Linked DNA regions of Homo sapiens. The protein of the gene in region 2 interacts with the protein of the main gene of each other region in a biochemical or structural test. Each region holds a gene or a part of one and is shown on either strand. Other genes may lie near its edges. The genes, in order: TJP3, AKAP10 and TJP1.

Region 1 (3,728 bases), on a different chromosome or scaffold from region 2:
TCACACCCGTCATCCCAGCACTTTGCGAGGCTGAAGTGGGCGGATCACCTGAGTTCAGGAGTTTGAGACCAGCCTGGCCAACATGGTGAAACCCCGTCTCTACTAAAATTACAAAAATTAGCGGGATGTGGTAGCGTGTTCCTGTAATCCCAGCTACTCGGGAGGCTGAGGCAGGAGACTTGCTTGAACCCGGGAGGCAGAGGTTGCGGTGAGCCAAGATTGCGCCACTGCACTCCAGCCTGGGTGACAGAGTGAGACTCTGTCTCAAAAAGAAAGTAAGTGAGGTGAGGAGAAACCTTTGTGAGCCTGGCACTTTCCAGCTCTGTCAACACAGGGCTCGGACTTGGCAGTAGGACAGTGTCAGAGACTTGGGCCTCACTTCCCTAAGGTACTTCCTGGTCCTTCACAGGAATTCTTGGGGTCATAGTGGCCCCAGAGCCCTTTTGGAACATAAAGTCCTGGAAACCATCGAGTGTTTGAGGGTTTGATGCTTCTTGGAATTATGTTGTTAAAATGGTTCTGGGCCCCAAGTGGCTGACAGGTGATATGGCTCAGCCCAGCCCAGAATTAGGGACCACCAGGTTCAGAGAGAAAGAGCTAGAAAGAAAATATGAAATACAGACAGGAAGAGAGGGAAAGAAAAGCAGAAAGTGGGGATTTGTGGTGTGGGGAGCGAGGAGTGAGAAGATGCCAGGTGTAGCTGTAGCTTCAAGGCCGGGTGCAGTGGCTCACACCTGCAATCCCAGCACTTTGGGAGGCCGAGGTGGGCGGATTACCTGAGGTCAGGAGTTCAAAACCAGCCTGGCCAACATGGTGAAACCCCATCTCTACTAACAAATACAAAAATTAGACGGGTGTGGTGGCGGGCACCTGTAGTCCCAGCTACTAGGGAGGCTGAGGCAGAAGGATCGTTTGAAACGAGGAGGTGGAGGTTGCAGTGAGTTGAGATCATGCTACTGCAATCCAGCCTGGGCAACAGAGTGAGACTCTGTCTCAAAAAAAAAAAAAAAAATGTAGCTTCCACTCTATGATTATAGTAGGTTCTACAATTGGCTCCATTTTACAGGTGAGAAAACGGAGGCCCAGAAGGATAAATGTCTTTGTGAACCTAGGGACACCAATGAATTAGAACCAGGCCTTGTAGATCTGGAGGTTCCAGGGGCACCCCCTCCCCAGGGAGGGCTTGTTACGAGGGTCTCCCCTGCAAAGCCTCCTCCGTAAGACCCGCCCTCCTCTCTCAGGACAGGCGACCACATCGTCATGGTGAACGGGGTTTCCATGGAGAATGCCACCTCCGCGTTTGCCATTCAGATACTCAAGACCTGCACCAAGATGGCCAACATCGTGAGTAGGCAGCCCCTGGCATGGCCAGCATCTCTGACCCCAGCCTGGGTCGTGCCGCTGTGGGGGTTGTAAGCTTCTGAGAGCAAGGAGTCATCTTCTCATCTTACAGTTTGGACATTGAGGCCCAGAGAGAGACTGGTGTCCCCCAGGGCCACCCGGGGGCTGAGCAGAGCCTCCCCCAGCCCTTGCCTGTAGCTGACCCTTCCTGTCCCCTCCTCTAACAGACAGTGAAACGTCCCCGGAGGATCCACCTGCCCGCCACCAAAGCCAGCCCCTCCAGCCCAGGGCGCCAGGACTCGGATGAAGACGATGGGCCCCAGCGGGTGGAGGAGGTGGACCAGGGCCGGGGCTATGACGGCGACTCATCCAGTGGCTCCGGCCGCTCCTGGGACGAGCGCTCCCGCCGGCCGAGGCCTGGTCGCCGGGGCCGGGCCGGCAGCCATGGGCGTAGGAGCCCAGGTGGTGGCTCTGAGGCCAACGGGCTGGCCCTGGTGTCCGGCTTTAAGCGGCTGCCACGGCAGGACGTGCAGATGAAGCCTGTGAAGTCAGTGCTGGTGAAGAGGAGAGACAGCGAAGGTCAGAAGAGGCGGGAGGTCGGACACGATCAGTACTGGACACAGGGCACCGTGGTCGGATGGGCGACGGTTTCAAGTGATTCTCCTGCCTCAGCCTCCCTGGTGGCTGGGACTCCAGGCGCCCGCCACCATGCCTGGCTAATTTTTGTACTTTTGGTAGAGATGGGGCTTCACCATGTTGGCAAGGATGGTTTCGAATTCTTGACCTCAGGTGATTCACCCACCTCGGCCTCCCATAGTGCTTGCTGGGATTGTGGGCGTGAGCCACCGCGCCCAGCCTGGAAGCTACAACTACACCTGGCATCTTCTTGCTCCTCGCTCCCCCCACCACAAATCCCCACTTTCTGCTTTTCTGTCCCTTTCTGCCTGTCTGTATTTCATATATTCTCTCTAGCTCTTTCTCTCTGAACCTGGTGGTCCCTAATTCTGGGCTAGGTTGAGCCATATCACCTGTCAGCCACTTGGGGCCCAGAACCATTTTATCAACATGTCCCCGCGCTGATCCCCGGGACCTCTGTTTAGGCCACCTCACTTAGCAAGAGGGACTCAGCAGATGGGATGGAGTGAAGGACCCTGAGCTCAGAGGTGATCCTGGATGATCTGGGGGGCCCAGTGTCACCACAGGGTCCTTATAAGAGGAGGCCTGGCTGAGTGTGGTGGCTGATGCCTGTAATCCCAGCACTTTGGGAGGCCAAGGCAGGCAGATCACTTGAGGCCAGTAGTTCTAGACCAGCCTGACCACTATGATGAAACCCCATCTCTACTAGAAATACAAAAATTAGCCAGGCGTGGTGGTGTGCACCTGTAATCCCAGCTACCTGGGAGGCTGAGGCACGAGAATTGCTTAAACCCGGGAGGTAGAGGTTGCAGTGACCTGAGATTTTGCCACTGCACTCCAGCCCCGGCGATAGGAGTGAGACTCCTTCTCGAAAAAAATTAAAAAATAAAAAATAAAAATTGAAACAATGATGATGTTATGAGCAATAGAATGCCCTTAGCCTGTGCATGGCAACATCACGAGTGGCACGGTGACCTGGTGTCCCCGCCCCGTGGAGATGTCATTGACACAATCAGATCTCGGGTCCTACGGGCGACATCACTGTTCTCCTTATGATGCCATCAAGGTGTTAGGATGGGAGGGCCCGCACCTGGACTGCTTACAGCAGGAGAATGCTCCCAGGCACCCGTCTCCAGAGTCCTGCCTCAGTTTCCCTCCTCCCCCCTTACAGAGTTTGGCGTCAAGCTGGGCAGTCAGATCTTCATCAAGCACATTACAGATTCGGGCCTGGCTGCCCGGCACCGTGGGCTGCAGGAAGGAGATCTCATTCTACAGGTGAGGCCGGGCTTCTTGTCCTGAGAGCAGGGAGACAAGGCAGGGTTGGGGCGGGCAGTCCCACGGAGTCATACAGCAAGGACAGCAGAACTGGGCCCCAAAGCATTTACCTTCAGTGTTGTTGCTTGTATCTCAAAGGTTGCAGATGGCCAGGCATAAAACCCCCTTTTTCCCCAGCTACTACTAATCCACAGCCAAATGTCGGTTTCTAGTATCCCCATGGGGTTGTCTGTTTCTAATACCCTCTAGCTTTGATGTGCATCAGAGACTCATGTGGGCAGCTGACTCCTGGACCTACCCTAGGTGACTGGATGCTAATGACCCAGTCACCAGGTTTAGGGGAGCTGCCCTGCCCTAAAGGATGGTATCTTTCTGGATTCTTCCCCTGAAAGTCTGTTTCTAGTGACTCCTAGTGTTTGATTTCCAAATTGCTTTCAGCTGATTATTTCCAGTGTCTTCAAAAAGTTATCTGTTTC
Region 2 (3,728 bases):
TCGATACATTGGTGGGAGACAAAACTGTACTTAAATTGATAAATCCCTTACATGTCATTTTAAGGAGCTTAGACTGACTCCCATCATGTAGACATCAGAGATTTCTTTTTTTTTTTTTTTTTTTTTTTTTTTTTTTTTTGTGACAGAGTTTTGCTCTTGTTGCCGAGGCTGGAGTGCAATGGCGTGATCTCGGCTCACCACAACCTCCACCTCCCAGGTTCAAGCAATTCTCCTGCCTCAGCCTCCCGAGTAGCTGGGATTACAGCCATGCACCACCACGCCTGGCTAATTTTGTATTTTTAGTAGAGACGGGGTTTCTCCATGTTGTGGCTGGTCTCGAACTCCTGACCTCAGGTGATCCTCCCGCCTCAGCCACCCAAAGTTCTGAAATTACAGGCGTGAGCCACCGCGCCCAGCCCAGAGATTTCTAAACAGAGTTCTAACCAGATGCTTTTCCCTGTCAGTAGAATGAGAATGAATTGGAGGTGGGAGAGACTGGCATGAGGGACACCAGTCAGCCAGTGGAATTAGCTGGTAATGTTGATAGGAGAAGAAAAAGATTCAAAGTTAGGTAGTGGTAGCAAGAATTAGAGGGAAGGTCGGATTTATGATATGTCCAAGGTTGAATTCTAAGGTGAAATTTGGTGGCAGATTTCATGTGTAAATTGGGAAGGTAGATTGAGTTTTTTTAACATGGGTTTTCTAACATGTCAATAGAGTGACTCTGCAGGGGGGCCTGACGAGAGAACAGTGCATGGGGTGATTCAACAGCCAGTTGAGCCTTCATGCAGAGCATTTAACACTGTGACTCTGTAGACTCTGGTTGGCAGTAAAATTTCATTAAACCAATATTTAAACCCTTAGGTAATAATAAAAATTGAGGGAAAAGGATCCAGGTTTTGTATTTTTTATGAATTCAGTTATTGAATTAAACAGGACCTTGCCTCAAGAAATAATCTACCAACAATTAACTTGTTTTAAAGCAAAGTTAGGAAGTGAGCATGTTCAAATTATTAAATAAAAAAGTAAGCTGTGTATTTCATTCATAGAAATAGAGGCTGGCCTACTTCGGATGATTCTCAGCATGTGATTACAGATGTGGGCTTATACATCCTAGGGAGTTAAGGCGTACTCTGGCTTGGATAGAGTAGAGCTCTTTGAAACTCTTCTCTCACCCAGCTAGTTTATATAGACTAGAGAACTAGAATGTAGCAGCATACTCTGTCTTAGAAGCCCTTTTATATAGGAGCTGGTCTGGAAGGTTTGAAAACATAACAAATGTGTTGGTGTCTCCCAATGTATTGCTAGATTCTTACCCAAGAGCATTATCCTGGTTAGGGTTTGGTTTGGTTTTGTTTTGTTTTTTAATGTTTGCCACAAACTAACACTAGATGTTAGTTCTTTCATCAAGTGAGGAGAGTAGAAGAAAAGTCCAGAACTCTGAAACACCTTTTCAAAAGTTTTTCAAGCCATGATGTTTGCAAGTTAAATGCTCTGTTATGTAAGCAATATAATCAGTTTTTATTAATGTAACATTCCTTAGTGTTTTGGGGTATCACACAAAAAAGAATATCCATATCTGGAAGCAACAGCTTTTAAATAAGAGCATTGTGGTGGTGGTGGTGATAGTGGTTTTTTTTTTTTTTTTTGAGTTGGAGTCTCGCTCTGTTGCCCAGGTTGGAGTGCAGTGGCACGATCTCAGCTCGCTTCAACCTCTGCTCCCAGGTTCAAGCAATTCTTCTGCCTCAGCCTCCTGAGTAGCTGGGATTATAGGCACCTGCTACCATGCCTGGCTGATTTTTATTATTTTAGTAGAGACAGGTTTCACCATGTTGGCCAGGCTGGTCTTGAACTCTTAACCTCAGGTGAATCACCCACCTCGGCCTCCCAAAGTGCTGGAATTACAGGCATGAACCACCATGGCCAGCCAAATAAGAGCATTTTTAATGTAAAATTATGCATGAAATGTACATTCAATTTTGTCTTTGTTTACTAGGATCCATGTTCTCACAAGCTATGAAGAAATGGGTGCAAGGAAATACTGATGAGGTAAATCCTACCTTTAGGATAAAAAGATTTCTGTTTATAAGTGCCACCCTCATGTAAGTGAGGTTTAAAATTTTCCTTTTCTTTAGGTCCCATGTTTAAGCAGCATGGCACATTTATGTTCTCTTACCCAGAATGTACCAAGAAAGGGTGGTCCCTTCTTAACATCTAACAATTGCCTGGTAGTAGCAGTGAAGGTATCTTCAGTCAGAGGCTAGGACCACTGAAGGATATACATGCATTCAAGTTTCCATCAGCCAGCAGGCATCAGTAATCAGTGTGTAGATCAAAAGCTCAAATGTTTCCTTCCCCACTGGCAGTTTTACTTCAAGTAGTGGAGGCTTGCTTTTTTAATAGTTAATTAAGTACATTGAGAGATGGGAGGTGAAAAAAGGAAAATGTTTTATTTTGACCATCTAATATGAAAGTAGTTCGGTGTTAGGTATCCAGTAGTTGACACTGGAAGACAGGGAATGACATGTTAATATTCATAGCCAGAGGGTGGCCCAGGTTTTTTCGTACATGGGAATGAAATTCTTATCCAAATAAGTAGAAATTATGTGCGTAAGCCATTTGTTAAGAGCACTGAGTATGTGCATCTCGATCCATCTAATGAATAACCATTATCACCAGTTTAAATTATTTTCTTTAGGCCCAGGAAGAGCTAGCTTGGAAGATTGCTAAAATGATAGTCAGTGACATTATGCAGCAGGCTCAGTATGATCAACCGTTAGAGAAATCTACAAAGGTAAGGATGACTTCGTTTTGTGTAAACTAAAAAGTATTATTTTCCAGGTGTAAAAATAAAAAAGAACATAAGGGGTTTCTTTGCCTTTGAAGGATTAACTGCTGTGGGGATTACCTTCTTATCATAAGCAACTAGAAAATTGACAAACTAAATGAAACAACTGTTTGCATATATTGGACAATGGGCAATACAGGGAAACCATGGAAACCAAACAGAGCCCAGTAGTCTTGCTGAACGAAAGAGTTAAATATCAAAGTTCAGGCCAGGTGCAGTGGCTCACGCCTGTAATCCCAGCACTTTGGGAGGCCAAGGCGGGTGAATCACTTGAGGTCAGGAGTTCAAGACCAGCCTGGCCAACATGGTGAAACCCTGTCTTAGCCGGGTGTGGTGGCAGGCACCTGTAATCCCAACTATTTGGGAGGCTGAGGCAGGAGAATCGCTTGAACCAGGGAGGCGGAGGTTGCAGTGAGCCGAGATCACACCACTGCACTCCAGCCTGGGCGACGAGCGAAACCCCATTTCAAAAAAAAAATCAAAGTTCAGAGAGCTCAATTTGAGTAGAAGTTGTAGGATAAGGTAGCAGAAAAGAGGAAGCTGCCCAGAAAGAAAGCCGTAGAGATATTTAGAGAGATTCCCATGGATCCTTGGCCTAGGAGTGATCTGTATATGTGTGGGGTGAAAACGCATGTGTCCAGGTAGAGAACCCCCCAGAAATTAGTAGGCTGAATGATTGCTGGAACATAGGGCTAAGAAAAGTTCATGGCCAGAAGGATCTGGCCAGAGTAGAGAGACTTAGTAATACACAAGGCATTGGGTAGTGTCTTCACAGAGGTTATGCCTTACTACTGAAGATAAATTAGTCCTAGAGTACAAGCACCTGAACCAAGTTTCAAAGCAAATTTTTAAAGGGTCAAATTACCTAACAACTGCATGC
Region 3 (3,500 bases), on a different chromosome or scaffold from region 2:
GGGCTGTAACGCAGTATATGTAGTACTGCTTCCCGTTTGATTTGAAGGAAAAAAAGTACAGTAGTTCCACTCCCTTTTTCCCCTCCAATCCTGGAAACAAGGTCTGGCTCTGACTTTTACTTGCTCTTTAATCTCTTTTCTGTTTAGAGACCAAATGTAAACTCTGTACAGTTCTAAGAATAAAACTGTGTATAAATATGATAGATCACCATGCTGCTAAGGAAAATGTCTTTAAAAATAATAGTTTTGGTGGAAAATTTGAAGACGTAATCCTGTTACTTGACATACCCCTGATATGATAAAAATTCACCTTACTGAAAGACCATGAGTCCAGCTGTAAATTCATGTGTAGTGCCACCCATCTGTGACTGCTCAGTCATTGCTCATTTCAGGCCTGCCTGAAAGCATTCACGTGCTCAGCATTGTGTATGACTGAGCATTATAGTAGCTGAAGACAAGCTAGTGGAATGAGCCAGTCATTTCTAATTAGCAAAGTTTTGATATGTTAAATAAAAAGATAGTTTATGTCTAGAATGATCCTCCTGGAATATTTGACTGGAACTTGCTTTGCACCTCTGAATTTTGAAAGCAAATCTTGAAAAACCTTTTTACTTTAACAACTTTTAGTCTTGTAGAAAGAAATAGACATTAGGATAGTTTACAGATTTTAAAGTTAATCCTATAAAATTGGTGTGTTGCAGTATTTCTTGCATAAGCCAGCAATAAAAATAAGACTTTTGCTCTCTCTGACCTAGAGTGCATCTTTATTTATTTATTGCAGAGAAGAGTGGCTTCAGGTTGCTCCTTTATGGGCTAGCCAGGTGCTTTATTTCCATTCCTCTTAAACAGATAAATTCTTAATAATGAGCAGTATGTGGGGAATACGTGGGTAGGGAGTTTTATCTTATATCCTAAGCATGGATGAAAATAAATGGACTCTGAATGATTGCCTTTACCACAAGAACACAGCTTTAGATCATGAGAACACCAATGTTACCAAACTTTGTACTGTAAAACACCATTTGAAATGTGATAACAAAACCCTGTCATATATGTAGTGCTCAATACTGAATCTCAGGTGGCCCTCACTTTGGGATAGATCAAGAGATAAGGTTTTATTAGTTTGTGTTGCGGATATATTTCAGTTGATATACTGAAAATACTGGGAAGTGAGTTAACTGGTGAATGATCTCAATTCTAGTTTATCATGTCCGGAAAGGAGGTAAAACAGAAGCTGATATTACTTTCTGTGGATTCTAATTAGGAACATAAGATTAGCGTATACCTGGTTTAATTAATTTTTTTTGACTTACCGAAATATTTTTTCCTTTTTAAAAAAATGTAAATTCCCAAAGACTGAAAAGTTCATTTTTCTTCTTGGTTATCTTAGGAATTTTCACGCTTTTGGAATTGTCATTATCTTGGAGATTGTACAACAGTTTCTGGTAACTGAATATCACCAGTTAAACTTAATATAAGATTAGCTCACTTAATTTAGTATGTAATTTTAAAATTCAGGAGGATACCAGTAATGACTAATTCTTTTTGTTAGCTTAACACATATTAAATGAGTACATTTTGTTTGGGATCCCGATCCTAGAAATTTACAGTTTTCAACTGCTATACGCTGTAATGATCACTTTGTGAATTGTGTAACTCATTGTTGAAGAAACAAAGGATTTGCATTGTTTACTCTTAAAAATACGAGCAAACTTATGGTCATCCTGTAATAACAGAGCATTCTTGTGTGCTTTCTTCGTTGGAGGAGGTGACAAAGTCATTTTCTAAACCTGGGCTTGCTGTTTAGCAGAGTTTCTGTATTTTTCCTTGTTAATGTTTTTAAATGTTTGAATTGAATCTGGATACATTGATGTAAGTGTTTTCTGCATATGTTTGGTATCAATATCTCAATAGGAGGGAGACATTAAGAATTATAAAGTAATTGGCTTATATGCTTAACAGCTCCTTGAATATACTGACAAGGCAAATGAACACTATACTAGCTGTTACTGTTACATTTAGGGTTCAAGAAGCTGTGAAATATGTAACAATTTGGATTCCTAAAGCGGAATTTTACATTCAGCAGATATTTGTTGGTTACCTCGTGTGTACCAATCACTGTTGTAGGTGCTGGAGATGCAGCAGTGAACACATCTCTGTACTGATAGGGCATTTTAATGGTGCGGGTAGAGAGCAGCAAATAAAATTCTGTCCATAATGATAAGTGCTAGAATCCCTAACATGCCTTTTCTGGGTCATATCCTCCCTTCTTCAAAGATTGCATGTATCTTGTCTTCTAGGTTTCTCATTTTCTAGTTTTTCTTTATAGTTACCACCTAATTATGCATTCTGAAAGCACTAGTTTTGACTCTCTGAACTTTGCGCATACAGAATCTTCTAGTGTGAATTCTGTTGTATATGGCTTCTTTTGCTCAGCATTATGTTTGTAAGATTATGTTGTGGAGAACTGTAGCTCATTAGTTTTCATTCAGTTCTTGTACTTCATGGTATTCCATTGTATGAGGACTTTATTGGTTTCGGGAGAAAATAGTTTCAGTTAGACTTCTGTGGCTTTTTGGAGAAAAATATTGTATATGTCTGTCTGAGGGGCAAGAATTAGATATGCATTATGAGGCAGTCATTGGAGTACCAACAGCTGAGCAAAAGGTAGTAAGCTTCTTTTGGTGTTCCTATGATTATCTTGAAAAATCAAGTTGGTCTTAGTTTGGAGGATATTTTATGACTAAGATGTTTGTCATACTAAAGTATGTTTTAGTAGTAAGTATTGAAGTATGTTTTAGTAGTAAGATATCCACTTACCTGACTGATCAGACCACCAAAAGCCACAATCAGGGGAAATACATGAATCTGGCAAAAATGAGTCTGCCTTTCAAAATATAATTGTGGAAGTTTTTCCTGGTAATGTCATATAAAGGTACTAAGGAAGGTTTATTTACTGATTTTTTTTTTCTAACAGTGGCAGTTATTGGAGTATTAATACTTACTGGAGTGTTAATACAGAAGTACACTATTTTGATGCTGTATCACCTATAAAAATCAAGTCAGTAGCCATGGCAAGTAGGCTTACATTTTAGTTATAAGTGTGAGAAATATGTGTCAAAACAAACAGTAGCCCCTTATATTGCATGCTGACTCTGTGACAGATACTGAGCTAAGTGTTTTATGTGCATTATCCCATTTAATCTTCACAATTCTGTTAGATACTACGATTATCTCTGTTTTTACAGGTGAAGGATCTGAGGTTAAATTTACTTGCCATAGGTAATCATACATCTACTTACATGTTCTATAAGTCATACATTCACATCCTTTTATGTTCGTGTGTTGTAAGAGAGCACCAGGGAGAAGAGTATGGGATGGTGTTAGGTAAGTCTTAGACCAGAAAAGCAGCATGAATCATGAAAGCCAGAAGAGAGGGCACTGCTCCATCAGAGCACAAGCCAGTTTGTCTAAAGGAAGCAGCTCTTGCTCAGCCCCAG

The links.
Region 1: the proteins of AKAP10 (region 2) and TJP3 interact in a test that uses a peptide from one of them, tested with the Homo sapiens proteins (one large-scale study listed by IntAct).
Region 3: the proteins of AKAP10 (region 2) and TJP1 interact in a test that uses a peptide from one of them, tested with the Homo sapiens proteins (one large-scale study listed by IntAct).

What each region holds. Positions count from the first base shown.
Region 1 is NC_000019.10:3,728,787-3,732,514, forward strand, and holds part of TJP3 (tight junction protein ZO-3), read left to right. Parts: intron 1-1,241; coding exon 1,242-1,344; intron 1,345-1,568; coding exon 1,569-1,920; intron 1,921-3,148; coding exon 3,149-3,252; intron 3,253-3,728. UniProt on the Homo sapiens protein: TJP1, TJP2, and TJP3 are closely related scaffolding proteins that link tight junction (TJ) transmembrane proteins such as claudins, junctional adhesion molecules, and occludin to the actin cytoskeleton.
Region 2 is NC_000017.11:19,908,247-19,911,974, reverse strand, and holds part of AKAP10 (A-kinase anchor protein 10, mitochondrial isoform 1 precursor), read left to right. Parts: intron 1-1,996; coding exon 1,997-2,049; intron 2,050-2,698; coding exon 2,699-2,794; intron 2,795-3,728. UniProt on the Homo sapiens protein: Differentially targeted protein that binds to type I and II regulatory subunits of protein kinase A and anchors them to the mitochondria or the plasma membrane.
Region 3 is NC_000015.10:29,812,469-29,815,968, reverse strand, and holds part of TJP1 (tight junction protein 1), read left to right. Parts: intron 1-3,500. UniProt on the Homo sapiens protein: TJP1, TJP2, and TJP3 are closely related scaffolding proteins that link tight junction (TJ) transmembrane proteins such as claudins, junctional adhesion molecules, and occludin to the actin cytoskeleton.